Linked DNA regions of Homo sapiens: regions 1 and 2 are each linked to region 3. The links come from fine-mapping of genetic effects on plasma protein levels. A gene starts in region 3. Each other region holds a variant in brackets. All regions are shown on one strand. Distances are from middle to middle.

Region 1 (8,000 bases), 15 kb after region 3:
CAGCAAATGTCCCAGGGAGCAGGATCTCATGGTTGGGCCTCCGCCTTCTTCCTACTTGACCAGGGGCAGCCCCTGACAAGGAGGACCACCGCGGCCTCCCTGCAGTTTCTCTTGCACCTGACTCTGCCCACAGCTCACCCAGTGCCCCCGGGGCCCTGCCCATCCTCCTCTTTCTCCTTGTCTGCTGCCTCCTGATGGCAAGACACCCAGGCCCAGTCCATGGACCTCCTCTCTGCTGTATCCACTCTGCAGAGACCCCCTCAGGCCCCTGGGGCATCTCCCAAAGGTGACCTCAAGCCCACAATTCCCCTAAGCTCCAGCCCTCCAGGCGTACTGGCCTCTCCACCTGTCACTTAGACAACAGGTGTCTCCGACTCCAAACGTCCTCAACCAAAGTCCCGCTCTCACCCGAGCTGCGCTGCTGCCTCTGTCTTCCCCATCTCCCTTTCTAAATGGGAGCTCCTAGTGGCTCAAACTAAACAACAGGGAGGATTTTGTTTTGTTTTTAAGTCTCTTTTGTCACCATTCCTTCCTGACTGCTACATCCCTCCACCAGCAAATGCTGCCAACCTTATCTCAAGCAGAACATGAATCTCACCCACGCCAGCCTGACCACCCTGTTGCACGCCACTTCCTGTCACCTGAATATTCCAGAAGCCTCGTAACTGGGCTCCCTGCTTCCAACATTGCCACATTCCCACCTCAGTCTATTCGCAACCGAGGACCCTCAGGAATCCTTTCAAAGCATTTATCAAAATCTACAACACCTCTGCTCATGACTGTTTCCCACTCACTCGCAGTGAGATCCAATCCCATCATGTAGATGGATGGGTCTCCTAGACCTCCCTATCACACGCTCTACTCCCTGCGCACTGGTTTTAGGCCAAGCCACGCAGCACACCAAACTCTGCCTGTCCCAGGGCCTTTGCACGTGCTGTTCCCATTTCCTGAAATCCTCACAATTTGCACAGTCCCTCCCTCAATGCCTTTAACATTCTGCCCCCAGGTCACCTCCTTAGAGAAGCCTGCTTGTCCCATATTTCAAATTGCCTCCCTGGCCCAGCCCTTCCTCCCTCCTCACCTGCTTCTTGCTTTATTTTTCCACATGAAGTTCTCTCCACTGCACACGCTACACACTTTGTTCCATGCGGGTCCCCTTCTCCCAGGATGGCAGCTCCGTGGGCAGGATTTTTGTGTGTTTTATCACTGCTGGCCCCTGATTCTGAACAGAGCCAGGCATGTGGTGAGCACTCGAGGAACCTTTCGTGAGTCAGTGATACCCATACACCCTGGGCTAAGCCGTGTCCTCTCCCAACAGGGACCTCCTGGAGCCAGTGTCCTGTGACCTCAGTGATGACATGCCCTGGTCAGCCTGCCCCCATCCCCGCTGCGTGCCCAGGAGATGTGTCATTCCCTGCCAGAGTTTTGTCGTCACTGACGTTGACTACTTCTCATTCCAACCAGACAGGCCTCTGGGCACCCGGCTCACCGTCACTCTGACCCAGCATGGTGAGGGGCTGGGGGCCCTGCCCGGGGCTTGGTTTCCTGTGTGGACAGCGGGGGCACCAGGGGTGGTCCAGGGAGTCTTCAAGGCAGAAGGCTGTGGCTTGGGGTTGGGTGAGGGTTTCTTGAGGGATGAGGGTATGGTCTGGTTACATGGAGACTTCAGAGCAGAGGGGCCCCTGACAAAGGCTTCTCCTGTGCCCCTGGCTGCTACCACCTCCCACTAAGCCATGGGCTTCCAGCACTGCAGGCTTGTCTTGAAGAAAACCGTTCTCACCACTCACTTAGAAACCTACCAAGTTAGAAAACTCTGTCCGCTTAGTTGTTTCATCTCATCTCTGAAGCAACCCATTTCCTGGATGTGGCCCTTGAGGCCCAGGAGGTCAGATGCCTCCTCTGAAGTCCCACAGCTGAGCAGTAATGACAGAGATGGGGTCAGCCTTCCCGGGGGCTTCCTGCATGGTAGACAGGGAGCTTGTCTCCTCGCTGCCCTGGAGGAGGGGCCCCGGTGTGGGCCGAAATCCCACAGTGGTCCATGAAGCCATCTGTGGTCTAGGGTGGGGTAGATGATTATTTTATGTAGTTAGGTTTTATTTGCCTCTATATTAGAAAGAAATATAACCTGCACTTCGAAGTCCTGGATTCAAGGAAATGGTTGCTTAGAATGAAGCTAAACCTGAAAAGGGACACGTTTTATGAAAGTTTTCGTTGACGTGGCAAAAACCCATGCTGGTGGCAGGCTGGTAGGAGGTACTGCAGGCTGTCATTGGGAGTCTCAGAACCACGGCAGGCTTGGTGCTGTTATTGGTGCCTTTGGCTGCTGCTGAAACGGAGACAGAGGGAGGTGACTAGTCCAAGGCCTCTCTACTGCTGCTGGCAGAGCTGAGATCCAGTGCAGGATGGTCTGAGTCCCCGGTCCTAACCACCGAACCACCTGGTGCTCTTTGCAAGGGTCACACGGAAGGGGCTCTGACCATGGCTTCCTGCCCTTTTTTGCCACAACATCATAAAGCCACTGCCAGAGGAGGGGATCAGTTAGGCCACCAGGAGTCCATCAGAAGCAACATTTCCACACATGGGTTTGATGGACACGAGAGTCCCTTCCTTCCCGAATGGAGCTCAGGGGGCCCAGGCTGGAGGGAGGGGAAACACTGTATGCCGTCCACCGTGAGAACTTACTGACAGTGGCGGGTGGGTGCCTCATGCAGGGGGTAAAGGGCAGGGCCCCTGGGAGATCAGAACAGGCTTCCCAGAGGGAAGAGCTTTGCAACTCAGATCTGAAGGGTAGACAGGAGGGGAGGGCAGTAAGAGCCTCTCTGGCAGGGTAACAGCTGTGCAGAGGCTGGGGGATCAGAAGGGCATGGGCAGCTGGGGAACCTGCTCACCATTGTGTCCAGGGAGCATCAGCTTCAAGGGCTGGACAGCGGTGGGAAGAAGCAGGAGACACAGGTAAGGACCTGTCCCTGGAGAGGCTTCTGTCTCCTGCAGTCTCAGGTAGAGGGGACCCTCTAGGCATGGAGAGCACTGAGGGGAAATGACATGATCAGATGTGGATGTGAGAATGCTGGGGACAGGGGACTTACAGGGTAGATTGGAGGAGCATTAGTTGGGAAAGAAGTTGAAATTCAGGCTGTGGCCTAAAGCACTCATTCCTAGAAATGATGAGGACACAACTGGCTAGGAGATGGGGACATGAGGGCATGCAAATCATAGTTCAGATATACACACAATTCATTCATTCAACCTTCTTTCCTTGAGCGCCTACATAAGCCAACGAAGCAGTCAACAAACCAGCCAGCAACCCTGCCCTTGGAGCTTACAGCCTGGAAACAAGGAAGGTTTCTAAGGCGATGGAGACAACTTAGATATAGGGAGAGAAGTGTGGCCCTTGGCCTCCTGGAGCCTGTGTTGAGTAGCGAGGTAGGGTCCAGCCTAATGCAGATTAGCAATGAATCAAGGATGCTGGGAGGTACTGGGCAGGCGACAGGCATGCATCTGATCTGCTCTGAGTCTCCATGTTTGGAGACCTTGGACATTTTACTTCCTCTATGAGTTTCTCCGTCTGTGAAATGAGCTGGTGGACTCAAGAGGTTTCTCTTGAGTTGGCTGAGCAGGTTTCTGATGGGGCTCCCAGTCTGCGCAGTTTGTGGCAGCTTCCGAGAGGGCTCTGCCGGGAAGAGCTCCCCCTCCATGACAGCCTCGGGGGCTGGGAGTGCAGTGACCCATGAGGGACGCCTGTCCTGGCTGTGGGTGAGGAGGGGCGGTTCCCCTGCTGTGTGTCTGCCGTTCTGGGTTGATGGTTCCTGACATGCTCTAGCATGCCATAACCCATGTCCAGCAGAGAGCACTTACATCCTATGTGTGAGGATGTTTTCGTTTGAAAGCCATCCCTCAGCAAGCAGACACCAGAAACCAGAAATCAGGTGCCGTGTCTTCATTCTGCATTTTCTTGAACAACCCAGAGTTCCCAGGAGATAGATGCTTGCCTTGTGGCTGCAAGGATTTCATGAGAAGCCCCAAAGTTGCTTACGCGTATTTGTTCATTCATTCACTCATTCACCTTGCCCCATAATTCACTGAGAAGCCGCATCTCAGCCTGGAGGTAGGGAAGGGGGTCAGGACCAATCCCACCCACCCCCATCTCCTCACACCTTAGGGGAGGCAGACACAGAAGCATAGGAATCCCTCAGCTGTGGTAAGGCCCTGGTGGAGGGAATTCCACTGAGCTATGGTGAAATGAGAGAAGGAATGAGGGATTCCGCCTGGAGATGCAGATCCGAGGATGTTCCTAGAGCCGGAGGCATTTGCCCGGGGCACTGACAACAGGAAGGACCCTGGGCAGGAGGAAGGGAGCTTGGACAGCAGGAGGGGGGAGGCCGCTGAACCGCAGGCCCCTCTGCTAGCAGGAGCCACCCAGGCCGCAGCGTGGGCAGTGGGGAGCCTCAGGACAGAGGAGGCTCCAATGAGTTTCCTCGCCAGCGCTTTTTATGGAGTTCGGGTCACGTGCGCATTGCAATCTGCACGGCTTTCCATTGCTTTCATGTTGAAACCCTACAGTTTTGCAGATGAAGGGCTGAGGCTCACAGAGGAGACGGGTCTTGCTCAAGGTCCCTCAGCTGCTGGGGGCAGGGGTGGCCTGGAACCCCCTGTGTCCACACAAAAGGCCATGCAGGCCCTGACTGCCCCCCAGCGGTCCAGCCCTTAGGTGCCCTTCACTTCCTCCCCTCCAGTCCAGCCTCCTGAGCCCAGGGACCTGCAGATCAGCACCGACCAGGACCACTTCCTGCTGACCTGGAGTGTGGCCCTTGGGAGTCCCCAGAGCCACTGGTTGTCCCCAGGGGATCTGGAGTTTGAGGTGGTCTACAAGCGGCTTCAGGACTCTTGGGAGGTAGGAACCACGGCCAGCTCTGCCCCAGCCCGAAGGGATGGGCAGCACCCCTCCTCCAGCACCCACTGTCTCCTGACAGGACGCAGCCATCCTCCTCTCCAACACCTCCCAGGCCACCCTGGGGCCAGAGCACCTCATGCCCAGCAGCACCTACGTGGCCCGAGTACGGACCCGCCTGGCCCCAGGTTCTCGGCTCTCAGGACGTCCCAGCAAGTGGAGCCCAGAGGTTTGCTGGGACTCCCAGCCAGGTAATGTTGCCAGAGCCCAGGAAATGCCCCGTGGTGGGAGGGCAGGCTCATCAGGAGCTCCTGGCACAGCAGGGTTCCTGGGCTCCACCTGGGGGCTTCCCAGATCTCCTGCTGCCATCTTTCCAGTAGCGTCCCTGGGCCGTCCCACCTCTACTGTGACCACTGACCAGTAGGACTCTGCATCTGTTCACTTTGGGTTTCCAGTTTTCTGCACGTTCTCTGCCAATGGCAATTACAATAATAACAACAACAGTGCTATTAGCAGCTGTGTGTTAATGGAGGCTACAGGATGCTCAGGGCTTACCCACATTTTTCAGTTCAATCCCCAAACACTGAAACTTAGATACTATTTCCATTCTCCCGGGAGGGCGTGCAGGTGCACAGAACTCTCTCTCTCTCTCTCGGAGCTGTTGGACACACAGCTGGCAGGTTCAGGCTGAAGTTTCAGCCCTGGTCTTTTGGCCCCAGAGCTCATGACCTCTGTGTGATGAATCACACGGTGGGCACCCACTGAGAGCTATGGGAGGGATGAATGACGGAGTACATGAGGACCTGTCTCCAACCCAGGGGATGAGGCCCAGCCCCAGAACCTG[G/C]AGTGCTTCTTTGACGGGGCCGCCGTGCTCAGCTGCTCCTGGGAGGTGAGGAAGGAGGTGGCCAGCTCGGTCTCCTTTGGCCTATTCTACAAGCCCAGCCCAGATGCAGGGTGAGCATCTTTTTTCTCCATCCCCTCCCCTCCTCTTGGCCTTGCTCTCTCCAAGCTTCCTCCTGTCCCTGGGGCCCCAGCAGAAGCCACAGCCCACCCTAAGCTCTCCTCCCTCCCGTGTGCCCTCCCTCTCCCTGCCCTCAGCTCTGCTGTGCTCCTCAGGGAGGAAGAGTGCTCCCCAGTGCTGAGGGAGGGGCTCGGCAGCCTCCACACCAGGCACCACTGCCAGATTCCCGTGCCCGACCCCGCGACCCACGGCCAATACATCGTCTCTGTTCAGCCAAGGAGGGCAGAGAAACACATAAAGAGCTCAGTGAACAGTGAGTTTGCTCCTAGCCCGCTGTGGGGATGGTCTGGGACCAGCACACCCTCATTGTGTAACCCGAATCAGTTCAGGGTTCCTCCTGGCCCCGTCTTCATGTTTGTCACTTTCAAAGAGATGCAGTCCAGTGACCAAAAGTGAACAGAGAAGCAATGAAACCACGACGGCAGTGGCCAAAAACAGGAGCAGATCTTTAAAACCTCTGATCTCTTGTCCTTTTCTTCTGCTTCCCTCTCCCATCCTGCAGCTCTCTAAATCTCCACTGCTAGCCACACCCTCCTGGTCCTGTCACCAAAACCTTCCCTTTCATTCCTCATTGGATTTTCCTCTTTCTGATATCCGAAATTCCCCACCGACTGATATTCTATCTTTAATGTAATTGATCTATGATGTACTTTTCAACTGGAGCCTGTGGTGTGTACAAATAGTGTTGATCCTTGGAGGTTAACATCCCTCGTTTCTGTGATGTAACAAGGACCCCAGTGCAATGGAACCTCTCACGTTGTTTCATGATGACCAAGTTCTTCCATCCAGTCTTTAGCATATGTGAAGGGCAGAGGCCAATTTGTCTTAATTACCTGGGTTTGAATTTACCATTAACTCTCTTGGGATCCTCACTGGAAAAAGGAATTCTGATTGTTCAAAAGCACAGGATATATTAAGGGCCTCATATAATGCCTGGCACATAAGAGACCTCAGCAAATTACGGGCATTCATATTATGTTTATACAGTGAAGGCATCAAGGTTATAAGCATTCTCTTTTTTCTTTTGGGTAGACTGAAGCTCAGAGAGGTTGAGTGGCTTACTTAAAGCTGCACAGCTATTAGTAGGCAGATCAAGATTAGAGTTCAGAACTTCTCACTCCCTGCCCAGTTTCTGCTTTCTTTACCCTTTGCCTCTTTCAAGTTGTGGGTCTGCCGGCCAGGTGGGAGGTGCTGTCTGCAAAGGGCTTCCCTTTCTCTTTGGCCACTATCTGGCTGGGGAGAGGCCTCACCTAGATGTTGTTGAAGGCCTGTTACAGCCGCTTTATTGGGGATTTTCTGGCGATGAGAACGTGTGAATGTCCTGGCCTTTAGTCAACTCCCTACACCTCTGAGAGTGTCAGACAAGAGAGCCCATCACACTGGTGGGATTGCAATCTTTGCCTCTACCACTGCTTAGCTGCCTTTCCTTAGGGCAAGTTACTTAATGGTTCTGTGACTCAGTTTCCCTGTTTGTGAAAAGTGAAGGTTAATAGTACCCACCATATAGGGCTGTTAGAATGGAGTGGAATAATTCATGTAGAATAAGTATGTATAACAGTGGCTAAAACATAGTCAGGCTGGGCGCGGTGGCTCACGCCTGTAATCCCAGCACTTTGGGAGGCCAAGGCATGTGGATCACGTGAGGTCAGGAGCTCAAGACCAGCCTGGCCAACATGGTGAAACCCCGTCTCCACTGAAAATACAAAAATTAGCTGGGCTTGGTGGCGGGTGCCTGTAATCCCAGCTACTCGGGAGGCTGAGGCAGGAGAATCACTTGAACCCAGGAGGCAGAGGTTGCAGTTAGCCAAGATCACACCACTGCACTCCAGCCTGGGCAACAGAGTGAGACTCCGTCTCAAAAAAAAAAAAAAAAAAAATAGCCAGTTGCCTAGAATAGAACCAACTAACAGTGGTTTTATTTTTACTGCAAAAAATAAAAATAAAAATAGGAGTAGTGCAAGCACTGGGCCACATCACTACAAAACAAGTGTATCTCAGCATCTCCCACGAGAATACCACTCAGGTCAAAACATGATATAGTGAAGTGGGGATGAAAAGGATCCAACCATGGGCAGAACCTGGGGTCTGGTG
Region 2 (10,336 bases), 27 kb after region 3:
GAGCCCAGTGGAGAGAACTGAGTGTGGGGATGCCTGGGACAGGGTGGGCTCACAGAGGGGGTTCCTGCTACCAGGATGGATGGGGTGTCAGGAGGCAGAAGGGCTCCCCAAGGACAAGATACCTGGGCTGAGCTTTGAGGGTCCCAGTGGTGCCAGGTGGCAAAAGTTGCTCTGGCTCAGGGCATCTTGAGGGTGGAGACAGAAACCCTTCAGGAAGGGAGCTGAAGGGGTGGGACAGGAGGCTGGGGGCCATGTTGGGAGGCTGAGATGACCATGGGGAAGACACCAGCGTGTGGGTGATGGGAGCCCTATAGTCAGGCAGGCAGGGCCAGCTTTGCCTGTGGAGGGGTCTCTTGGCTGGTGTGGAGGAGAAATGGGGGTGAGCATGGAGACAGGCACTCCAGGTTAGAAAAATCACAGGAAAAGGGCCCTGTCCTCAGGTAGCAGGGACATGGGGGAAGTCCCCGCCCCTCTCTGGGCCTCACTTTGCTGGTGTCAAAAGGCCGTGGCCAGTCCTGAAGAAGTGGAGATTCTTCTCTTGTCTGGGGGCTCCTTGAATCCTCCTGCACCCCCGTCACCCTCTGCCTTGCCCCCACCTCGGACCTCCTGATGCTCACCGGCCCAAATGTCTCTGCTCTTGCAGAACGGGAGCGCAGAGCTTTGGCCCCCAGGCAGCATGTCGGCCTTCACTAGCGGGAGTCCCCCACACCAGGGGCCGTGGGGCAGCCGCTTCCCTGAGCTGGAGGGGTGAGTGGGCTCGTGGATCACTCCTGACCTTTGGGGTTCATACGGGGGGCTGACTCCATTGTGGAAATCAGGGACTCAAGTGAGGCTGCCTGTGGCTCACTGTGAAGGGATCCAAGGGAGCTGGTTTGCACTAAAGCAGGAGGCACCTGGGGGGGATGTGAGGAAGAACTTCCTCTTTCCAGGTAAGGAAGTGCCAGACAAGGGGAGTGACCGGAAGTGAAAGAGGGAAACAGTTGGCCTTCCCCTCCCTGGCTGCCTCAGAGGCGTCACACTGCAGAGGCCTCATGGGGTAGCTGGGGCTGCAGACTCCCGGGAACTCGGCGCCTGAGCCGGCAGCTGACCACCAACTCGGCAGGGAGAAGGGGGTGGCATGGTTGATAGAATGATGGAAGGGTTGCCCAGTGCACAGGCTGGGCATGAGCCTGGTGCTGAAGGAGGATGGACTTTAAGGTCAAAAGGGAGAGGGTACCAGCCTTGCAGAGGAAGACCTTGAGCTCAGCATGGAGGATGGAGCTCCTGAGCCACGGAAAGACTGAATCCATGTCCCATGTCCTTCTCTGGGGCCCCTGCTCCCTCAACCCTGTCCCGTTCAGGTTCTCTCTGTGAGATCTGGGGGACATCAGGGCTTCCAGAGAACCATCTCCACCCCACCAAGACCCTTGTGCCTGACCCGGATCATCTGCCCAGGGTGGTCCCAACTCTTCTGCCCATTTTCTTCCCACAGGGTGTTCCCTGTAGGATTCGGGGACAGCGAGGTGTCACCTCTCACCATAGAGGACCCCAAGCATGTCTGTGATCCACCATCTGGGCCTGACACGACTCCAGCTGCCTCAGATCTACCCACAGAGCAGCCCCCCAGCCCCCAGCCAGGCCCGCCTGCCGCCTCCCACACACCTGAGAAACAGGCTTCCAGCTTTGACTTCAATGGGCCCTACCTGGGGCCGCCCCACAGCCGCTCCCTACCTGACATCCTGGGCCAGCCGGAGCCCCCACAGGAGGGTGGGAGCCAGAAGTCCCCACCTCCAGGGTCCCTGGAGTACCTGTGTCTGCCTGCTGGGGGGCAGGTGCAACTGGTCCCTCTGGCCCAGGCGATGGGACC[A/G]GGACAGGCCGTGGAAGTGGAGAGAAGGCCGAGCCAGGGGGCTGCAGGGAGTCCCTCCCTGGAGTCCGGGGGAGGCCCTGCCCCTCCTGCTCTTGGGCCAAGGGTGGGAGGACAGGACCAAAAGGACAGCCCTGTGGCTATACCCATGAGCTCTGGGGACACTGAGGACCCTGGAGTGGCCTCTGGTTATGTCTCCTCTGCAGACCTGGTATTCACCCCAAACTCAGGGGCCTCGTCTGTCTCCCTAGTTCCCTCTCTGGGCCTCCCCTCAGACCAGACCCCCAGCTTATGTCCTGGGCTGGCCAGTGGACCCCCTGGAGCCCCAGGCCCTGTGAAGTCAGGGTTTGAGGGCTATGTGGAGCTCCCTCCAATTGAGGGCCGGTCCCCCAGGTCACCAAGGAACAATCCTGTCCCCCCTGAGGCCAAAAGCCCTGTCCTGAACCCAGGGGAACGCCCGGCAGATGTGTCCCCAACATCCCCACAGCCCGAGGGCCTCCTTGTCCTGCAGCAAGTGGGCGACTATTGCTTCCTCCCCGGCCTGGGGCCCGGCCCTCTCTCGCTCCGGAGTAAACCTTCTTCCCCGGGACCCGGTCCTGAGATCAAGAACCTAGACCAGGCTTTTCAAGTCAAGAAGCCCCCAGGCCAGGCTGTGCCCCAGGTGCCCGTCATTCAGCTCTTCAAAGCCCTGAAGCAGCAGGACTACCTGTCTCTGCCCCCTTGGGAGGTCAACAAGCCTGGGGAGGTGTGTTGAGACCCCCAGGCCTAGACAGGCAAGGGGATGGAGAGGGCTTGCCTTCCCTCCCGCCTGACCTTCCTCAGTCATTTCTGCAAAGCCAAGGGGCAGCCTCCTGTCAAGGTAGCTAGAGGCCTGGGAAAGGAGATAGCCTTGCTCCGGCCCCCTTGACCTTCAGCAAATCACTTCTCTCCCTGCGCTCACACAGACACACACACACACACGTACATGCACACATTTTTCCTGTCAGGTTAACTTATTTGTAGGTTCTGCATTATTAGAACTTTCTAGATATACTCATTCCATCTCCCCCTCATTTTTTTAATCAGGTTTCCTTGCTTTTGCCATTTTTCTTCCTTCTTTTTTCACTGATTTATTATGAGAGTGGGGCTGAGGTCTGAGCTGAGCCTTATCAGACTGAGATGCGGCTGGTTGTGTTGAGGACTTGTGTGGGCTGCCTGTCCCCGGCAGTCGCTGATGCACATGACATGATTCTCATCTGGGTGCAGAGGTGGGAGGCACCAGGTGGGCACCCGTGGGGGTTAGGGCTTGGAAGAGTGGCACAGGACTGGGCACGCTCAGTGAGGCTCAGGGAATTCAGACTAGCCTCGATTGTCACTCCGAGAAATGGGCATGGTATTGGGGGTCGGGGGGGCGGTGCAAGGGACGCACATGAGAGACTGTTTGGGAGCTTCTGGGGAGCCCTGCTAGTTGTCTCAGTGATGTCTGTGGGACCTCCAGTCCCTTGAGACCCCACGTCATGTAGAGAAGTTAACGGCCCAAGTGGTGGGCAGGCTGGCGGGACCTGGGGAACATCAGGAGAGGAGTCCAGAGCCCACGTCTACTGCGGAAAAGTCAGGGGAAACTGCCAAACAAAGGAAAATGCCCCAAAGGCATATATGCTTTAGGGCCTTTGGTCCAAATGGCCCGGGTGGCCACTCTTCCAGATAGACCAGGCAACTCTCCCTCCCACCGGCCACAGATGAGGGGCTGCTGATCTATGCCTGGGCCTGCACCAGGGATTATGGTTCTTTTAAATCTTTGCCTTTCAGATACAGGAAAAATAATGGCATTAAATTGCTTTAATTTGCATTATTTTAGTTATCCAGTTTGCACATATTTTTATAGGTATCTTAGGCATCGATTGGTATTTTTTAACTGGGCCAAGCCCATTAAGGTCTTTCTTCTGTTGGGTGCTATCATTTTCTGATTAAGTCTTTTTGACTATTGACATACAGTCTTTCACAGATGGTGGAGTGTTTTTCCCCCAAATCTGTTGTTTGTCTTATAATGTTGTATATGAGGTTTTATGGTGTATGAATATGAATGCTTCTGTAATGTCAAACAGATCCCTAGTAAACTCCTTCTTCACTTTTACTGTCAGATTTACAAAGGTCCTCCCATTGCAAAGCAGTGTTTGTCCTAATTTATATATTGTTTTTCTAGTTCATTTTGTGTTTCCAACTTTTCATGTAAAATTTTAATTATTTTTGAATGTGTGGATGTGAGACTGAGGTGCCTTTTGGTACTGAAATTCTTTTTCCATGTACCTGAAGTGTTACTTTTGTGATATAGGAAATCCTTGTATATATACTTTATTGGTCCCTAGGCTTCCTATTTTGTTACCTTGCTTTCTCTATGGCATCCACCATTTTGATTGTTCTACTTTTATGATATGTTTTCATAAGTGGTTAAGCAAGTATTCTCGTTACTTTTGCTCTTAAATCCCTATTCATTACAGCAATGTTGGTGGTCAAAGAAAATGATAAACAACTTGAATGTTCAATGGTCCTGAAATACATAACAACATTTTAGTACATTGTAAAGTAGAATCCTCTGTTCATAATGAACAAGATGAACCAATGTGGATTAGAAAGAAGTCCGAGATATTAATTCCAAAATATCCAGACATTGTTAAAGGGAAAAAATTGCAATAAAATATTTGTAACATAAAACAAAGTGAAACCCTGAATTTGTGTGTGCATGTTGGTGTAGTTGGAGGAAGGGGTTGCTCTTTGAAACCTCAATTGCTATTGTAAGTGATACAGCTCCAGTGACTGGAGGAACACCAGGGTCCTTAGTCTTGCGCCGATTTAAATAAAACGACACGGAAACACATGGAGTGGTTTTAAGGAGTGGAGAGTTTAATAGGCAAGAAAGAAGGAAGAAGCTCCCCTGTACAGAGACAGAGGGAGGGGGGATCCAAAGCTGAGAGAGGAAACCCTGAGTGCCACAGAAATAAGCCAGTTATATGAGGAGGCTAGAGAAGGCAGTATCTGATTTGCATAGGGCTCAGGGGATTGGTTTGACCAGGCATGTCATTCATGTAACCCCTGAAAAACCTGGCCCTTTCACCCTAGCATTTTAATATGCAAATGCAGGGCGCCATGATGTTCTACACAGGTGGGACTATGTGGGGGTGGCCATATTGCCAGGCAAACATGGGGACAAGGAAAAGATGGCGGGAATCCCCATGTTTGGGTGGACCCAGTTTCTAACGGTCTGCATTTGCATATCAAAGGTTGCCAGCCTGATTCTAAGAGCCGGGGCTTTCCTGCTAGACAAGAAACGTTTTTTGGAGCTGCTTTTAAAACAGAAACGAAAACTTCCCAAGGACCACTTTTCCTCTTTATCTGCCTCAAATAATTTTTTAATAATTCCTATAACACAAGGAAATGAATTCTGCCAAACAGAAGGGCCTTTGGTCTTTGGGGCACTACAGTGGGTACATGATGGCGTGTGGAACACCACGCAATGGAGGGAGACGCAGGGCACTCCTGGGAAAATCCAGGAGGGATGAGGGAAGAGGAAAGACAGTGAGGGAAAGGAGGATAAAGAACACACTTTTAAAAAATCGTTCATTATTATCTGAAATTCCAACACAACTGAACGTCCTGTATTTTTCCCTAGTCATGAGAGTGAAAAACTAAATAGAGACTGAGTTCCCCATACAAATAACTGAGAGTGATCGAGAGCTTATTCCTGGCAGGCCCCATTCGAGTGACCTCTAAGATCAATTCATTTAGATACTATGGAAGTGGAAGATACTATCTTTATCATTTTTGTCATTGAGGAAACTAAGGCACAGAGATGTCATACAACTTGCCCCAGGTCTGCCAGCAGGTAAGGGGCAGAGCCAAGATTTGAACTGTAGCCCTGTGTCTCAGAGCCTGCCCTCAAAAGGTAAGTCTCTCACCTAAAGATCCATACGGAGATGTAAGATGATCCATGTTGGTTGGCAAGACAGAAAAATCCATAAACCAAATAAATTGATTTGGTGGCAGGGGGAGATTGAATCAGAGGTGACCCTGAAAAGTGTCTGTTTATCTGGGAGCTGAACACTGAAGGTGCAATTCTCACCCATTGGAGTCCAGAGAGACCTTCCCTGGAGGACTGCAGCTCCCTCATCTGTCTTCCCCTGAGAACCCAGCCCAGAGCCATGCATGTAGTAGGTGATCATTGAGGTGAGCAAGGCCTGCAGGAGGCTGTCCCTAAGATGGAGGAGAACAAAAAACTTATTAGGGGGATGAAAGGGAGGGCAGGAAGCAGAAGTGGGCTAGGGAAGCCATTGGCCATCCAGAGTTGACATTTGTCCCCCCATGGGGAACTTGGGGGATGAATTGCCTGTTGGAAGAGCCCATGTTGGGTGGAAATGGCCAGTCCCGGAGCCCTTCATGGTGGGGAACCCTGAGAACACACTACATAAGGAAGGAGCAGGGCTGGAGACCATCAGCAGCTTGGGCCTCACAAGCATTTCACGTGTTTAATTGATCACACAGAACCCTTGCACCAAGACAATCGTTTGCTCCTAGAGGGAGCCTTTCCTTCGTTTGGAAACAATCCTTTCCCAACCCCAACAAGGCAACCTGCATCCGGTGGTGCTCAATCAATAGAAGCTGGGCAGCCCGGGTGCAGGGTCAGTGTGCCCAAAGCATTGAAATGCGGTGATTTGGGCCATGGGTCATGCTGGGTGTCCTGAGCAGGGGTAACTTCATCTACCCAGTGACGCAGGTAGCAACTCTCTGGGTCTGGTGGCACAGGAGGTAAAGGAATTTACCAAGCCAGTTGTAGGTAAAGAAAGGCAGATTTATTAGAGAAGGTATGAAAATACGTTGCAAGGTCGCAATTACAATGAGCAGAGAAGGGGCTGTCTGCAAAGAGGCAGTGGCTGAAGGGAAGTTTCATAGAGTCACGTTGAAGAGGGCTACATGCAGAACAAGCAGAACGAGGTTGTTGTGCCTGGTTGTTTGTGATTAGCTGTCTCTGAGAATAATTGATGACTTTTCTCCCCACTTGGGGCCCTCCCCAACCTGGGGCCTCTTCCTCATTGTTGCTTATTTATCAGGACTCCACCAGGGACAGAGTCACCCTACAAGTCCTAACTCAAGTGTGGGTTCTTCTTAGAACACAGCCCCTCCAGCTCCCTTGGAAATCCCCAAGTCTTCCCAAACGATGTAGGACTTTTCTTCTTGGTCACTTTGCAAGCCGGGGCCCCCAGTCAGTGATGCCTTGCCCAGGTCTCACTCGGCCACGCTATCGCGTATAACTTGTATAACTTGTACCCATGTTCAGTGGTTCCTGAGCCCTTGTACCTCGCCCAAGAAGAATGAAGATATACTGGACATTGGAGGGTGAGGAGGGCTGAGAATAATTTTATTGAGTGATGAAAATGGCTTTCCGTGGAAAGGGGATTCAGGGGTGGGAGGTGGGGTGTAGGGGGAGGTTTTGCCACGTGGCTCGGTCTGGGGCCCTTTATGGATTCAAAATGAGGAGTGTATGCTGATTGGTTTGTGAGTATGCAAAAAAGGTTAAAGTGACAACACCACTCAAAGCTGTGCACAATGGTGTAAGAAAACCAATTAGGAAAGGGTAGGGAGGTATATGTAAAATAGGTGAAGGGTGAGGACTAATCAGAGGTAAGCATGCCAAACAGAAAGACAAGTTCTCAATCCAGTCCAGTCGGATGATTTAACTTGTAGCTTGGCTTTCAGGCTTTAAACTGTCTTTGGCTTGGAGGTGGGGTTTCACGGAGGACCTGCCCCATCTGCATAGGCATTTGTCCACCTCCTGCTTCTATCACAGAGCATGTCTCAGCCTCTCTGTCCTGCCACTCAACTTTGTCCCCCTGCCTTTATTACCCATCTTGTAATTCCTGGCTCACAGCTTTGTGTTCCAACTAGACTGAGAGCTCCCTGAGCCCAGCTACTGCCAGGCTCACTTCAGGCTTCAATGCCCAGCTCAGACGCAGTGCATCTGCTAGTGTGTGTGTGTGTGTGTGTGTGTGTGTGTGTGTGTGTGTTAAAAGTGTTTCTTGCTGGCTGGTTCTGGAAATTTGTCATTCTCTGTCCTCTATCTTCCTGTTAAAAACTTCAGCTGAATTAAATTTAAAGGAGTTTAATTGAGCAATAAACAATTCGTGAATTGGGCAGCCCCCAGAATCACAGCAGATTCAGAAAGACTCCAGGGGTGCCTCATGGGCAGAACAAATTTATAGACAAAAAAAAAAGTGACATACAGAAATCAGAACTGAGGTACAGAAACAGCTGGATTGGTTACAGATTGGCGATTGCCTTATTTGAACACAGTTTGAACGCTCAGCAGCGTATGAGTTGTTGAAGTTTATCTGCTGGGATTGGCCAAAACTCAGTGATTGTTACAGACGCATACTCCTAAGTTAGGTTTTCAATCCTGTCTACCTATTAAGTTAGGTTGTAGTTCATCCACAAGGACTCAAATATGGAAGTACAGAGTCCTTCTCAGGCCATATTTAGTTTGCTTTGACATCCCCATTGAGATGACTCAACTATTCGGCTAAGGGCTGTAGACAGTGAAGAAATGTGACTAATTGCTGGATACTGTAGTATATTGAGTGTGCAAGAGCATTATATCTAAAAAACAATGTACATACTGCAATTTAAAATGCTTTGCTGCTTAAAAAAAATAATGCTAACAGTCATGTGAGCCTTCAAGTTGTCATCTTTTTGCTGCTGGGGGTTCTTGCCATGATGTTGATAGCTGCTGACTGAGCGGAGTGGTGGTTGTTGAAGGCTGGGGTTGTGTTGAAGGCTGTGGCAATTTTGTGATTGGCCACCAATGGAGTTTGCTGCATCAATGGACTCATCCTTTCATGAAATTTTTATTGGTAGCATGCAATGTTATTTGATAGCATTTCTTTCCAAATTGAAGTTAATCTTCTTAAACCCTGCTGCTGCTTTGTCAACTAAGTTGATTTAATATTCTTCATCCTTTGTTGTTATTTCAACATGTTCACAGCATCTTTACCAGGAGTAGATTCTATCTCAAGAAACCACTTTCTTTGCTCCTCTGTAAGAAGCAGCTCCTCACCTGTTCAAGTTTTATCATGAGATTGCAGCAATTCAGTCACATCTTCAGGCCGTACTTCTAATTCTAGTTTTCTTTCTATTTCCACTACATCTGCAGTTCCTTCCTCCCCTGAAGTCTTGAATCCCTCAAAGTCATCCATAAGAGTTGTAATTGACATCTTCCAAACCCTGTTAGTGTTGATGTTTTGACCTCCTTCCATGAATCGCAAATGTTCTGAATGATATCTAGAGTAGTGAACCCTTTCTAGAAGGTTTTCAATTTACTTGGCTCAGATCCATCAGAAGAATCACTGTCTATGACAGCTATAGCCTTAGGAAATGTGTTTCTTAAATAACAAGTCTTGAAAGCAGGAATTTCTCCTTGATCCAAGGGCTGCATAATAACTGTTATGTTCACAGACATGAAAACGACATTAATCTTGTGTATCTTCATCAGAGCTCTTGGGTGACCAGGTACATTGGCAATAAGCAGTAATATATTGAAAGAAATATATTTTCTGAGCATTATATCTCAACAGTGAACTTAAAATATTCCTAAACCATGCTGTAAACAGATGTGCTGTCAGCCTTTACTGATCCATTTCCAAAACACAGGCAGAGTAGATTTAGCATAATTTTTGTATTAGTCTGTTTTCATGCTGCTGATAAAGACATACCCAAGTCTGGGCAATTTACAAAAGAAAGAGGTTTAATTGGACTTGCAGTTCCACGTGGCTGGGGAAGCCTCACAATCATGGTGGAGGGCAAGGAGGAGCAAGTCCCATCTTACATGGTTGGCAGCAGGCAAAGAGAGAATGAGGAAGGCGCAAAAGCAGAAACCCCTGATAAAACCATCAGATCTTGTGAGACTTATTCACTACCAAGAGAATAGTATGGAGGAAACTGTCCCCATGATTCGATTATCTCCCACTAGGTCCCTCCCACAACACATGGGAATTATGGGAGTATAATTCAAGATGAGATTTGGGTCGGGACACAGAGCCAAACTGTATCTTTTTTTTTTTTTTTTTTTGAGATGGAGTCTCACTCTGTCACCCAGTGCCACGATCTCGGCTCACTGCAAGCTCCACCTCCTGGGTTCACCCCATTCTCCTGCCTCAGCCTCCCGAGTAGCTGGGACTACAGGTGCCCACCACCACGCCCAGCTAATGTTTTGTATTTTTAATAGAGACGGGGTTTCACCGTGTTAGCCAGGATGGTCTCGATCTCCTGAACTCGTGATCCACCTGCCTCGGCCTCCCAAAGTGCTGGGATGACAGGCGTGAGCCAACGCACCTGGCCAACTGTATCAATACTTAAGGGGCTTAGGGTTCTTTGGAATTGTAAATGAGCATTGGTTTCAATTTAAAGTTACCAGTGGCATTAGCCCCTAACGAGAGATTCTGCCTGTGCTTTGAAGCATTGCAGCTTCAA
Region 3 (10,679 bases):
AGAAAAAAAATATAGCTGTAAGTACAATATACGCATTTGTTCATTCATTCTCTGGCTCTGTCCAGTGAGAGACCTGAGGACAGTGACACTTGGGCAGCAGGGAGCAAGATCACCTTGTGTGTGTATCTTGGCTCTAAATACCATTCTCTACTATGAGGAACCCAAGCCCCTTGGAGAAAATTCCCAAGTCCGAGCCCAGGGCAAGGTAAATAGGAGAGGAGATGAGCATTTCATGCTGCCTGAAAGTCAGGGAGGTCTTAAAGAACGATGGGGATCATTGAAAAGGACACAGGAGCCCATTTGAAGGAGCTGTCACTGGCCAAAGTTGGCATGATTTGAGCATTAAAATAAATCATGGTAGGTACTGACTGTAAGCCATTTAATAAAATAGAAATCCGTGAGTCCACACTGATTATATAAGTTAACAAAGAACACAAGAAGGAAAACAAACTCTTCCTTAGGTAGAATGCCAACTATTAAATACAAAAGGAATGGTGACATTTTATTTATTTATTTATTTAACAATAGCAACTTTTATTTTAGACTCAGGGGGTGTACGTGCCCCTTTGTTATCTCATAATACTTTAGCATTTTAGAATAGTTTTTTCTAATTCTGTGAAAAATGATAATTCATATCCCAAACCACATGGTAAGTGTAGTACCCGGGTAGTTAGTTCTTCAATCCTTGCCTCTCTGCCTCACCCCTCTAAGTAGTTCCCTGTGTCTATTGTTGCCATCTTTATGCCCATTAGCACCCAATGTTTAGCTCCCACTTATAAGTGAAAATATACAGTATTTGGTTTTCTGTTCCTGCATTAATTTGCTTAGGATAATGGCTTCCAGCTGCATCTATGCTGCTGCAAAGGACATATTTCATTCTTTTTATGGCTGTGTAGTATTCCGTGGGTGTATATATACCGCATTTCCTTTATCCAGTCCACTGTTAACGGGCAACCAGGTTGATTCCATGTCTTTGCTATTGTGAATAGTGCCGCAATGAACATACGAGCACAGGTGTCTTTTTGGATATATACTCAGTAATGGGATTGCTGGGTCAAATGGTTGTTCTGCTTTAAGTTTTTTAAGAAATCTCCAAACTGCTTTCCACAATGGCTGAACTAATTTACATTCCTATCAATAGCATATAAGCATTTGCTTTTCTCTGCTGCCTCACCAGCGTCTATTGTTTTATGACTTTTTAATAATAGTCATTCCAACTGATGTGAGATAGCATCTCATTGTGGTTTTGATTTGCATCTCTCTGATGATTAGTGATATTGAGCATTTTTCATATCTGTTGGCTGCTTGTATGTCTTCTTTGGAGAAGTGTCTGTTCATTTCTTTTGCCCACTTTTTATTGGGGTTATTTTATTTTATTTTATTTTTTGCTTGCTGAATTGCCTAAGTTCTGTACAGATTCTGAATATTAGACCCTTGCTGCATGCAGTGTGCGAATATTTTCTCCCATTCTGTAGGTTGTCTGTTTACTCTGTTGATAGTGTCCTTTGCTGTGCAGAAGCTTTTTAGTTTACTTAGGACCCACTTGTCAATTTTTGTTTATATTGCAATTGCTTTTAAGAACTTAGTCATAAATTTTTCCCCAAGAATGATGTCTAGAGTGGTGCTTCCTAGGTTTTCTTCTAGGATTCTTATAATTTGAGGTCCTACATTTAAACTTTTAATCCATCTTGAGTTAATTTTTGTATATGGTGAAAGGTAAGGGTCCAGTTTCATTCTTTTGTGTATGGCTGGCCAGCTATCGTATCACCATTTATTGAATAGGGAGTGCTTCCCCCATTGCTTATTTCTGTCAGCTTTGTTGAAGATCAGATGGCTGCGGGTATTCAGCTTTATTTCTGTGTTCCATTGGTCTATGTGTCTGTTTTTATACCAGTGCTATGCTGCTTCGATTATTGTAGCCTTAGTATAGTTTTAATTTGTGTAATGTGATGCCTCAGGCTTTGTTCTTTTGGCTCAGGATTGTTTTGGCTATTCGAGCTTTTTTTTGGTTCCATATGAATTTTAGAATAGTTTTTTCTAATTCTGTGAAAAATGACAGTGGTAGTTTGACAGGAATAGCATTGAGTTTGTGGAATGCTTTGGGTGTATGGCCATTGTAATGATACTGATTCTTCCAATCCATGAGCATGGAATGTTTTTCCAATTGTTTGTGTCATCTATGATGTCTTTTACCAGTGCTTTGTGGTTCTCCTTGTAGAGATCTTTTATGACCTTGCTTAGCTGCATTCCTAAGTATTTTATTTGTGTGTGTGTGTGTGTGACTATTGCAAATGGGATTGCATTCTTGATTTGGCTCTCAGCTTGAACTTTATTGGTGCACAGAAATACTACTGATTTGTGCACATTGATTTTGTTTCCAACTTTATAGAAGTTGTTCATCAGTTCCCGGGGACTTTTGGTGGAGTCTTTAGGGTTTTCTAGGTATAAAATCATATCATCAAGGAAGAGAGAAAGTTTGACTTCTTCTTTTCCTATTTGGATGTCTTTTATTTCTTTCTCTTGTTAGATTGCTCTGGCTAGGACTTCTGAATGACAGAATTTTTAAAAGTCACCATTTGGCAATGATCATCATGATAATGTTTAATTAAATTAAGGAACATCATTGCATACTGAAATTATACAAGTGTGGGAGTGGGATGAGAAAGCTTAAAAGTATCTCCCTACCAAATGCTTATAAATTACGATGTGGAAGGGGAAGTAACTTTACAATAGAGAAACTTGATTGGTGTCAAGTTAATCAAATGATCAGAGCGAACGACATTAGTGATGGGACAGATTGACAATGAAAGCTAATAGGACTCACCAAGAATAATCCAGCATCACTTCTGTGCTATTTTGGCCAAAAAAGCATAACCCAGTTCTAATCATCAGACAGAGCCAAATCGAGGGACATTATTCAAAACAACCAACCTGCAGTCTTCGAGATGTCGAGGAAAAAACAAGGCATCTGTTTCAAACTGGAGGCCCGAAAGACATGGCAACTAAGAGCCATGCATTTAGAGAGAATGCAAAGTCCCGGATGGATTTTCTTGTTACAAAACCATTATTGAGAAGCTTAGCGAAACTCAAAGGGGGTTTCCACATGAAGGGTATGTGAGAGTTCTTTGTATCATTCCTTTAACGCTCTGTATTTTGAAATAGTTTCAGAATAAAAATGGAAATGGAAAAAAATGCAATGTTAACATATACGAGTTACTACTTTCAACAAGTTATCTTCCTTTTCATGCCTCAATTTCTTCATCTGTAAGGTGAAGACAGTAACAGCTACATAAAGGTTATTGGGAAGAGATGGAGAAGCCCCCAGCCGAAGGTCTGCTCACAGCGTAAATGCTCAAGCCCTGGTCATTATGAGTACTACGTTCTTGCCAACATTTTCTTGGGTTTCTTAGTCTCTAAAAGATCGTCAATTGCAAGACACGGTATTTTACATACCACTGAAGGAAAAAACAAACAAACAAACGAAAACATTCAATGAATTCCTGACGGTGTGATTCTTCTCGCTTAGAACTTTTAATACTTATTGAGAGAACTCTGTTAGACTCATTCAAATGTAGATTTTTATCCCCTGCTGCTCTATGATGACTTTTAAAAGGAAAGGGTCAGTCAAGTGAATTGGCTGAGGTGTTCCTAAAGCTCCTTCACATTTTGGGTCTGGTGTCCGGAGTGATTTTGACTCAGAGTCTCGGGTTCTTCGTTTCTCCACCAGACAGCATCCTCTGTGCTCCTGAGGGCATCCAGGCCCGCAGCCTCCCAGTCCCACAGAGGACCTCAGCAAAGACAGGCAGAGTGGGGACACCTGGGAGAAAAGAGAGCCCGGGACGTCACTTTAATTCCATCCTCTCCAGCCCTGGAGAAGCCCCTGCAGGGTTTTTCCATGCCAGGCAGGGACCTCACACTGACCGGAGTGCCTGAGAGAACCACACATGCCTTCCTCTACCCTGGGCTTTCTCTGCTAGGGTGAGGCCCTGCCAGCTCTTCCTGGCCAACCCTGCCCTTCCTGGTAGGAGGAAAGCAAAGAACAACAATCAGGCCAGAATTCCAGTGGCTTCGAGGCAGGTTCCTGCCCCTCCATTTCCTCCATTCCCCTCATTCTTGCCCTCCATTCCCCTCATTCCTGCCTGCTGCCCTTTCTCCTGGGAGGCAGCCCCATGTAGGAGAAATATGACTGCGTTTTGTTGTGTCTTGGCACTGTGATTCATCTTGTCTTTATTCAAACTTTTCATATTTGGTTCACCGTGAATAGTTTCTGCATCAGTTGGGATTTTTTTAAACCATATTGCATTAAAATATTACTTACAACAATTACTGAATTTTTAAATGCCTGTTTAAATTTTGAGCACGAGAGACTGCCTCACTCACCTGACCTTAATTCTGCTGGCCCTGCTGTGCTCAGGGAGCCACTCATTCATTCATTCATTCATTCATTCATTCATTCATTCATCTATTCATTTGCACACAGTCAAAGGTGCAATTTCTCCTCTGTACCAGGCCATGTGCTAGGTATTTGGGAGGGAAGTGCAAGCCGGACACAAGCCAGCACTGAAGATAGTGTCAGAAGAAAGACAGCCATGAACACACATGACCATATGACACATGGTGGGGTGGGGCGGCAGGGCAAAGAGGACATCGGGGAAATCAACATGCCACCAGCTACCACTTGTAGGGGGTTCTCCTGTGGCCAGCTCTGAGCTAAGGTCTTCCTGCACAGAATCTCACTGGATTCCCTCAACAGTCCTTCCAGGTTTGTAGATGCTTCTGCAAAAGTAACAGACAGATGGATGTCCCGAGGCTTGGGGAAGTAACACGCAGATGATTTGCACAAGGACACGCTTTAAGAAGCAGTGGACTTGGAAGTCCAACACAGATCTGTCTGGCTCTGGGCTCAAACCAGCTATGGTTATTGCAGCCACTTCCACCTGCATCCCCATCAAGCAGTCAGGGAAGGCTGCATGGAGGAGGCCCTGCGTCAGCTGAGGCTTGAAGGAGGCCTAGGAGTTTATAGGAAGGTAAATTGGAGTAGGAGGCTTTCTGGAAGTAAGAAAAGTCACGTGCACTATTAGCAAAGTAGGCCTGGGCCGGCACTGCTTCCTCTTTCTGCTTCTCTGTTTCCTGATGACATCAACATAAATAGGAAACGTGGGAGGCTCACTCTGCCTAGAGGCTCCAGAAGAAGACTGGTCTCTCCCACCACACAGAGGTATGGCCCGGCGTCCAGGAGCAGGGCTGAGGGGTGGGGTCAGAGCAGGGGGGAATGTGGGGAGTCCAGGATGAAAAAGGACAGGGGGAGCCTGGGGGGCGTCCTGTGGGTAGCTGTGCCCTGGGGACTTGGAGGAGTTAGGGCTTGGCCTCTTAGGATGACCTGAGCCCAGACTCCTAGGGCGGCCAGTGGATGGGGAGGCAGCCAGGGGTGCCAAGCTGCTTGGGTGTTGTAGGAGAGCTCTGGGGAGGACTCAGCCTCGCTAGCGGGATCTGGTTGGTCCTGGTGGGAAGGACGCCTAGTGGGGTGAAGAGAGCTCAGGCCTGGGAGTCAGGCACCTATAGTCTGTCTTCGCTTTGTCACTAAGATGCTGGTGGTAGTGAGAGCACCCCCTGTCCACCCTGGGCTTCTGTCTCCTCATCTGTGGAATGGGGAGCATGGATAGTCCCTGACATCTTGGTTTAGAAAGAGAGAGAACGCATGCTCGTGTGTTTGCCCGTGTGTGCATTTGTGTGTGTGCCTGTGTGTGTATGTGCATGTGCGGATGTCTGGGGATGCAGGAGTGCAGAGAGACTAAGAGGCAGAGGGTGAAACCTGGAAGCTTGCTGCGCTGAGGCCCAGAGCTGGGTGCGGTGTGGCTTGAGAAGCTCACTTTGAACTTGAGAAAGAGCCCAGCACTTTGCCCAGAGACATACCAGGCACTATCCAGCAATCTCTCTCTCTCTCTCTCTCTCTCTCAGTCTCTCTCTCTGTCTGTCTGTCTTTTTAGTTATGACACTCTGCCCTGCTGATTTGGGTTGCTGATTTGGGTTGGGGCCCAGGTGTGTGTGTTCTGTACCCAAGTATGCTGGCTGGGTGGGTGGGTATCTGGGGTGCCTGCTTCAGGGTGTGTGCAGGTGTGTGTACTGGCCCTGAGAATGAAAGGGCAGGTGTTTCACTGGGACCTTGTCAGACAGGTGCTAGCGACAAGCTGCATATGTGCAATTTTTAGTCTTCAAAAACCCTGCTGTTATATTTTTGTACAGCCCAATTCTAATTTTTTTCTATCATCTTTCCTGCTTTGTAATCATTTTATAATGAGTAAACATTTCCTATTAGCTTTTGGTCACTCTTTTTTTCATCCAGCAGTTTTATTTATATTGTTCCAGTATACAGATATACCAACACCACAGGATAATTCATGAGTTGTATAAGGAATGTATTTAATGCTAAACAAGCAACTACACAGAAACCTACCTTCATGAAAATTAGAATAATCTAGAATTATGTAGCACAAGAGACAAAGTCCCCAGCAATTTCTTTTCCCTAGTTCCATAGCTTATTCTTTTCACCACATGTATTCTTCCAGAACATTTTCTAAGCATGATACAAGCATATAGTTTTTCTTTTCCTGTTTGTTTTTTGTTTTGTTTTGTTTTGTTTTTGTGACAGAGTTTTACTCTTGTCGCCCAGGCTGGAATGCAGTGGTGCAATCTTGGCTCACTGCAACCTCTGCCTCCCGGGTTCAGGTGATTCTCCTGCCTCAGCCTCCTGAGTAGCCGGGATTACAGGCATGAGCCACCACACGTGGCTAATTTTTGTATTTTTAGTAGAGACAGGGTTTCACCATATTGGCCAGGCTGGTCTCGAACTCCTGACCTCAGATGATCCGCCTGTCTCAGCCTCCCAAAATGCTGGGATTACAGGCTTGAGCCACTGTGCCAGGATGGTAGTTTTTCTTTTTACAGAAATGGGATTATTTTATTTATATATATATATATATATTCCTAATTTTTTCACTTAATATTGTATTTTGGAATATTTCCAAATTTCTACAATAATACATACAGATTTAACTCGTTAAGTAACCCTAAGAAATATGTGGCATTTATTAGGATGGGTACACCACAATTCATCTAATCTCACGTTGATCGACACCTAGATTGTTTCTAATTTTTCCACATCTGTGAAAGTGTTTCTGTAGCCTAAATTACTAAATGCAGAATTGCTGTGCAGAGGTTGTGCGTTAGAAATTATAATAGGTATTGTCAAATCAGCCTCAAAGTAGCTGAGCTAAGCTGACGTCCCCAAGGTAGTGCATAAAGGGTCCAATTTACCTTTAGAGAAATTATCAATCTTCTAATTTTGTCCAATATTATGTATGGAAATTCTCAATGTCGCGTGATTTTTTTCTTTCCCTGATTATGGGTGAAGTTGTACATTTTCTATATGTGGATTGGCCTTTTGGATTTCATTTATGATGAATGTGGAGAAATTTTTGTTCATCTCCTGTTGAATTCTCTTTTACATCTTAACTTTTGGAGTGACTCATTTATTACGTGTATTAATAATCCATTTATATATGTTGAAAATATATTCTCCCAGGTTATGACTTATCTTTTTCTTTACCATGTTTAAGATGTCTTATGTCATATAAAAATGTTTTCATTGTTAAGTCAAACCTGTCATTACTTTTTACTTTATGGTTTCTGATTTTGGTGTCTTGTAAACCTCTAAGATCACAGGTGTCTTGTAAACCTCTTTTTACTTTATGGTTTCTGGTTTGGTGTCTTGAAACCTCTAAGATTACAGAAAGAGTTTTAATAATTTTACTATTTTGGTTTTGACTTTGAGATTTTTAGCCCACCTAGAATTTAGAGAAGTGAGTAATGTGTAAAGTAACTTTTAAAAATAATTACCATCTAATTGTCTTAACATTGCTAATTATGAGTGTGTGATTTCTCCTCTCTTCAATGATTTGAAGTGCCCCTATTACATCCTAGGCTTCTATACATACTTCGTTATTTTCTTTATTGTTTTCTCTTCCATTTGGCTGTCACTACATTCCTTATTATTTTTCTAACGAATGGAGCAAGTCTCTCATCTCTGGTTTGTTATAATTTAGAATCAGTTTGCCAAGGCCAGGCACAGTGGCTCATGCCTATAATCCCAGCACTTTGGGAGGCTGAGGCAGGCAGATCCCTTGAAGTTGGACGTTCAAGACCAGCCTGGCCAACACGGTGAAACCCCATGTCTACTAAAAATACGAAAAATTAGCCGGGTTTGGTGGTGTGCACCTGTAATCCCAGCTACTTGGGATGCTGAAGTGGGAGAACTGCTTGAACCCAGGAGGCAAAGTTTGCAGTGAGCCGAGATCACGCCACTGCACTCCAGCCTGGGCAACAGAGTGAGACTCCAACTCAAAAATAAAAATAAAAATCAGTTTGCCAAGCCCATTAAATTCCTTTTTGGAATTTTCATGTTGATTGCATTGAATTTAGAGATGATCTGAGGGACATTGACCACTGGAAGTAAAGACAATAGTGAGAGCCTCCTGTGTGAGGCTTTGACAGGAGGACACTAACGTGCCCCCTTGACTCTGTCATCGCCTTTGGTTTCTGGCAGACTTTCAGTGATGCCAACGTTTCCGCCACTGCTTCATTTGCCAGGGTTTGTTTGTTCATTTAACCAGAAATGTCTTGTTTATTATTAAATATTTAGGAGTGTCTGTCAAGATCAGCTTATCCTTTTTTCCCTTTTAATCCGTTCATCTGTTTGTTTGAATCATAAATAGGTTTCTTAAGGGTTCTCCTTCCATGTATGGAGTACCCTCTACTTGGCCATGATGTCTTCTTCTTTTAAAAGTCTTTGTCAGGTTGACCTATGAAATTGTTTTTGTCTGGAGTGAATTTGTATTTTGCTTTTCCCCCCTAGTTTTTATCCCTGCCATTCAATTTCTTCATAAGCTTGGGAATGTTTATCCCTGCCATTCAATTTCTTCATGAGCTTGGGAATGTAATATGTGCATGTTTATTTTGAGTAAGAAGGTGTTTGGTTTTTCTCTTCTCTTTTCTCTCTCTTCCTTTCTCTGTCCCTCCCATCCCTTCTCTGTCATCCTCCTGTCCCCATGCTTACTCTTCATTCTTAGTGATTTTTAATCTTTATGTTTTTAGGGATTTAAAATGTATTGAACTTATATTTTCTGGGTCGGGCACAGTGGCTCACGCCTGTAATCCCAGCACTTTGGGAGGCCAAGGTGGGCAGATCACTTGAGGCCAGGAGTTGAGACCAACCTGGCCAACATGGTGAAACCCAGCCTCTACTAAAGATACAAAAACTAGCCAGGCGTGGTGGTGCATGCCTGTAGTCCCAGCTACTTGGGAGGCTAAGTCACAAGAGTCGCTTGAACCCCGGAGGCAGAGATTGCAGTGAGCCGAGATCATGCCATTGCACTCCAGCCTGGGTGATGGGGTGAGATTCTGTCTCAAAAAAAAAAAATAGTATTTTTTTTAAAGAAACCATATTTGCTACCAGCATTTGGGTTTATTTAGCACATATATGATCTTCCAAAACAAGAGGAGATCTTTAGCAAGTTTTCAGTTCTCTTCCATTCTCCACCCCAGCCTCACAGCAAACTCCCACATTAAAATCATCTGAGTTTTAGTTCAATATTCTTCTTTAACTTATCTGTAAGTGTTACAGGTTTATTTACCTCAGTATTTCAGCTTTCTTGGATTTTTTTTTCCTGAAATATAACCTAGAGTAATTTCTTTCAGAAAAGATCTGAAAAACTTTCTTTGTCCTTACATACTCAAAATTTTTTGTGTCCTTTAAATGTCAAAGAAAACTTGGCATTTTGTGATTCTAGGTTTAAGCATAATTTTCCCTTGGTATTTTCAAGACATCTATTTAAAGTTCAGAGTCTCTTATGTGAAATCTTTAGCCAATCTGACCCTTGTTGCATTCAAAGTATCCTATTTGTTTTCTTCTGGAAGCATTTCTGGGATCATCCTCATATTCTTGCAAGACGAAAAGTTTACCAGTGAGAACTAGGCATGGCTTTATTAAAAGGAATCTTGGGAGTTAACCCTGATCTCTGTCCCCTACTACAAAACCTCATCGTAGTAGCCTCCCCCCTTGAATACAGATTCCTTACTGTCTTTGAAAAATATTTTAAAAAGGAGTCTTGTTCTTTATTGAGTGGCCTCTTGTCTCCTTGAAAGCCCTGTGAAGCTTTCCCCATTTGCTGTTGTATCTGTTTGGCTGCACATGGAAAATCCCTAAGCAACAGAGGCTTAACAACATAGAAGTTTCTTTTTCCCAGCATATAAAAGATGCCCAGAGGTAGCAGTTTCAGGCTAGTATGGTTGCTCCAGAGTGAGAGTGGGAATCCAGCTTCCTCTCTTTCTGTTGCATCATCTTCACATATGGCTTCCATCCTCAAGGTAACCTCATGGTCCAAAATAGCTGCTGAAGCTCCAGCTATCACCTCCAAGTTGCAGGCTGGAAGAAGGAAGAAAGACAGAGGGACAAAAATGAACCCCTCCCACCTAAGTCAACTGCCATTGAGCAGCCTTTTTTGGAAGACATACACAATGTTTCTATTCTCATCTCCTTGGATCACGTTTAGTCACTTGACTGCACCTAGTGGCAACGGAGTATAGGAAGGAAATAGACCTTTTTATTCTGTGTAGCAATAAAC

Alleles and levels. Alleles are on the strand shown, and positions count from the first base shown. The strength of an association depends on the size of the effect and on how common the allele is.
For the plasma level of the protein whose gene starts at base 5,169 in region 3, G is the low allele of the variant in region 1 and C is the other (weak association).
In carriers of allele G in region 2, the plasma level of the protein whose gene starts at base 5,169 in region 3 tends to be lower than with A alone (weak association).

The links. PIP is the posterior inclusion probability: the model's chance that the variant is causal. The UK Biobank Pharma Proteomics Project read protein levels with antibody pairs (Olink). The fine-mapping took linkage between variants from a reference panel, not from the people measured, so its PIPs are less certain.
Region 1: its variant is fine-mapped to the plasma level of the CSF2RB protein (UK Biobank, PIP above 0.99). The variant lies in the coding sequence of CSF2RB. If it changes the protein, the assay may bind it differently, which can mimic a change of level.
Region 2: its variant is fine-mapped to the plasma level of the CSF2RB protein (UK Biobank, PIP above 0.99). The variant lies in the coding sequence of CSF2RB. If it changes the protein, the assay may bind it differently, which can mimic a change of level.

Annotation. Positions count from the first base shown.
Region 1 is chr22:36,924,669-36,932,668 of GRCh38, forward strand. CSF2RB (colony stimulating factor 2 receptor subunit beta) reads left to right here. Exons shown (of 14, transcript NM_000395.3): 4 at 1,319-1,509; 5 at 4,734-4,891; 6 at 4,971-5,139; 7 at 5,707-5,842; 8 at 6,005-6,162. LOC105373023 (a long non-coding RNA gene) reads right to left here and starts at 1,275. Exons shown (of 2, transcript XR_938230.2): 1 at 1,082-1,275. RefSeq lists an enhancer at 836-2,035. The variant G/C (reference allele first, on the strand shown) is at 5,733.
Region 2 is chr22:36,935,906-36,946,241 of GRCh38, forward strand. CSF2RB (colony stimulating factor 2 receptor subunit beta) reads left to right here. Exons shown (of 14, transcript NM_000395.3): 13 at 644-747; 14 at 1,472-4,534. The coding sequence ends at 2,597. Among named protein-coding and RNA genes, the nearest start is that of LL22NC01-81G9.3, 24 kb to the right of the region's middle. The variant A/G (reference allele first, on the strand shown) is at 1,847.
Region 3 is chr22:36,908,460-36,919,138 of GRCh38, forward strand. It overlaps CSF2RB (colony stimulating factor 2 receptor subunit beta), which reads left to right and starts at 5,169. Exons shown (of 14, transcript NM_000395.3): 1 at 5,169-5,218. It overlaps LOC105373023 (a long non-coding RNA gene), which reads right to left. Exons shown (of 2, transcript XR_938230.2): 2 at 10,013-10,480. RefSeq lists an enhancer at 3,002-3,703.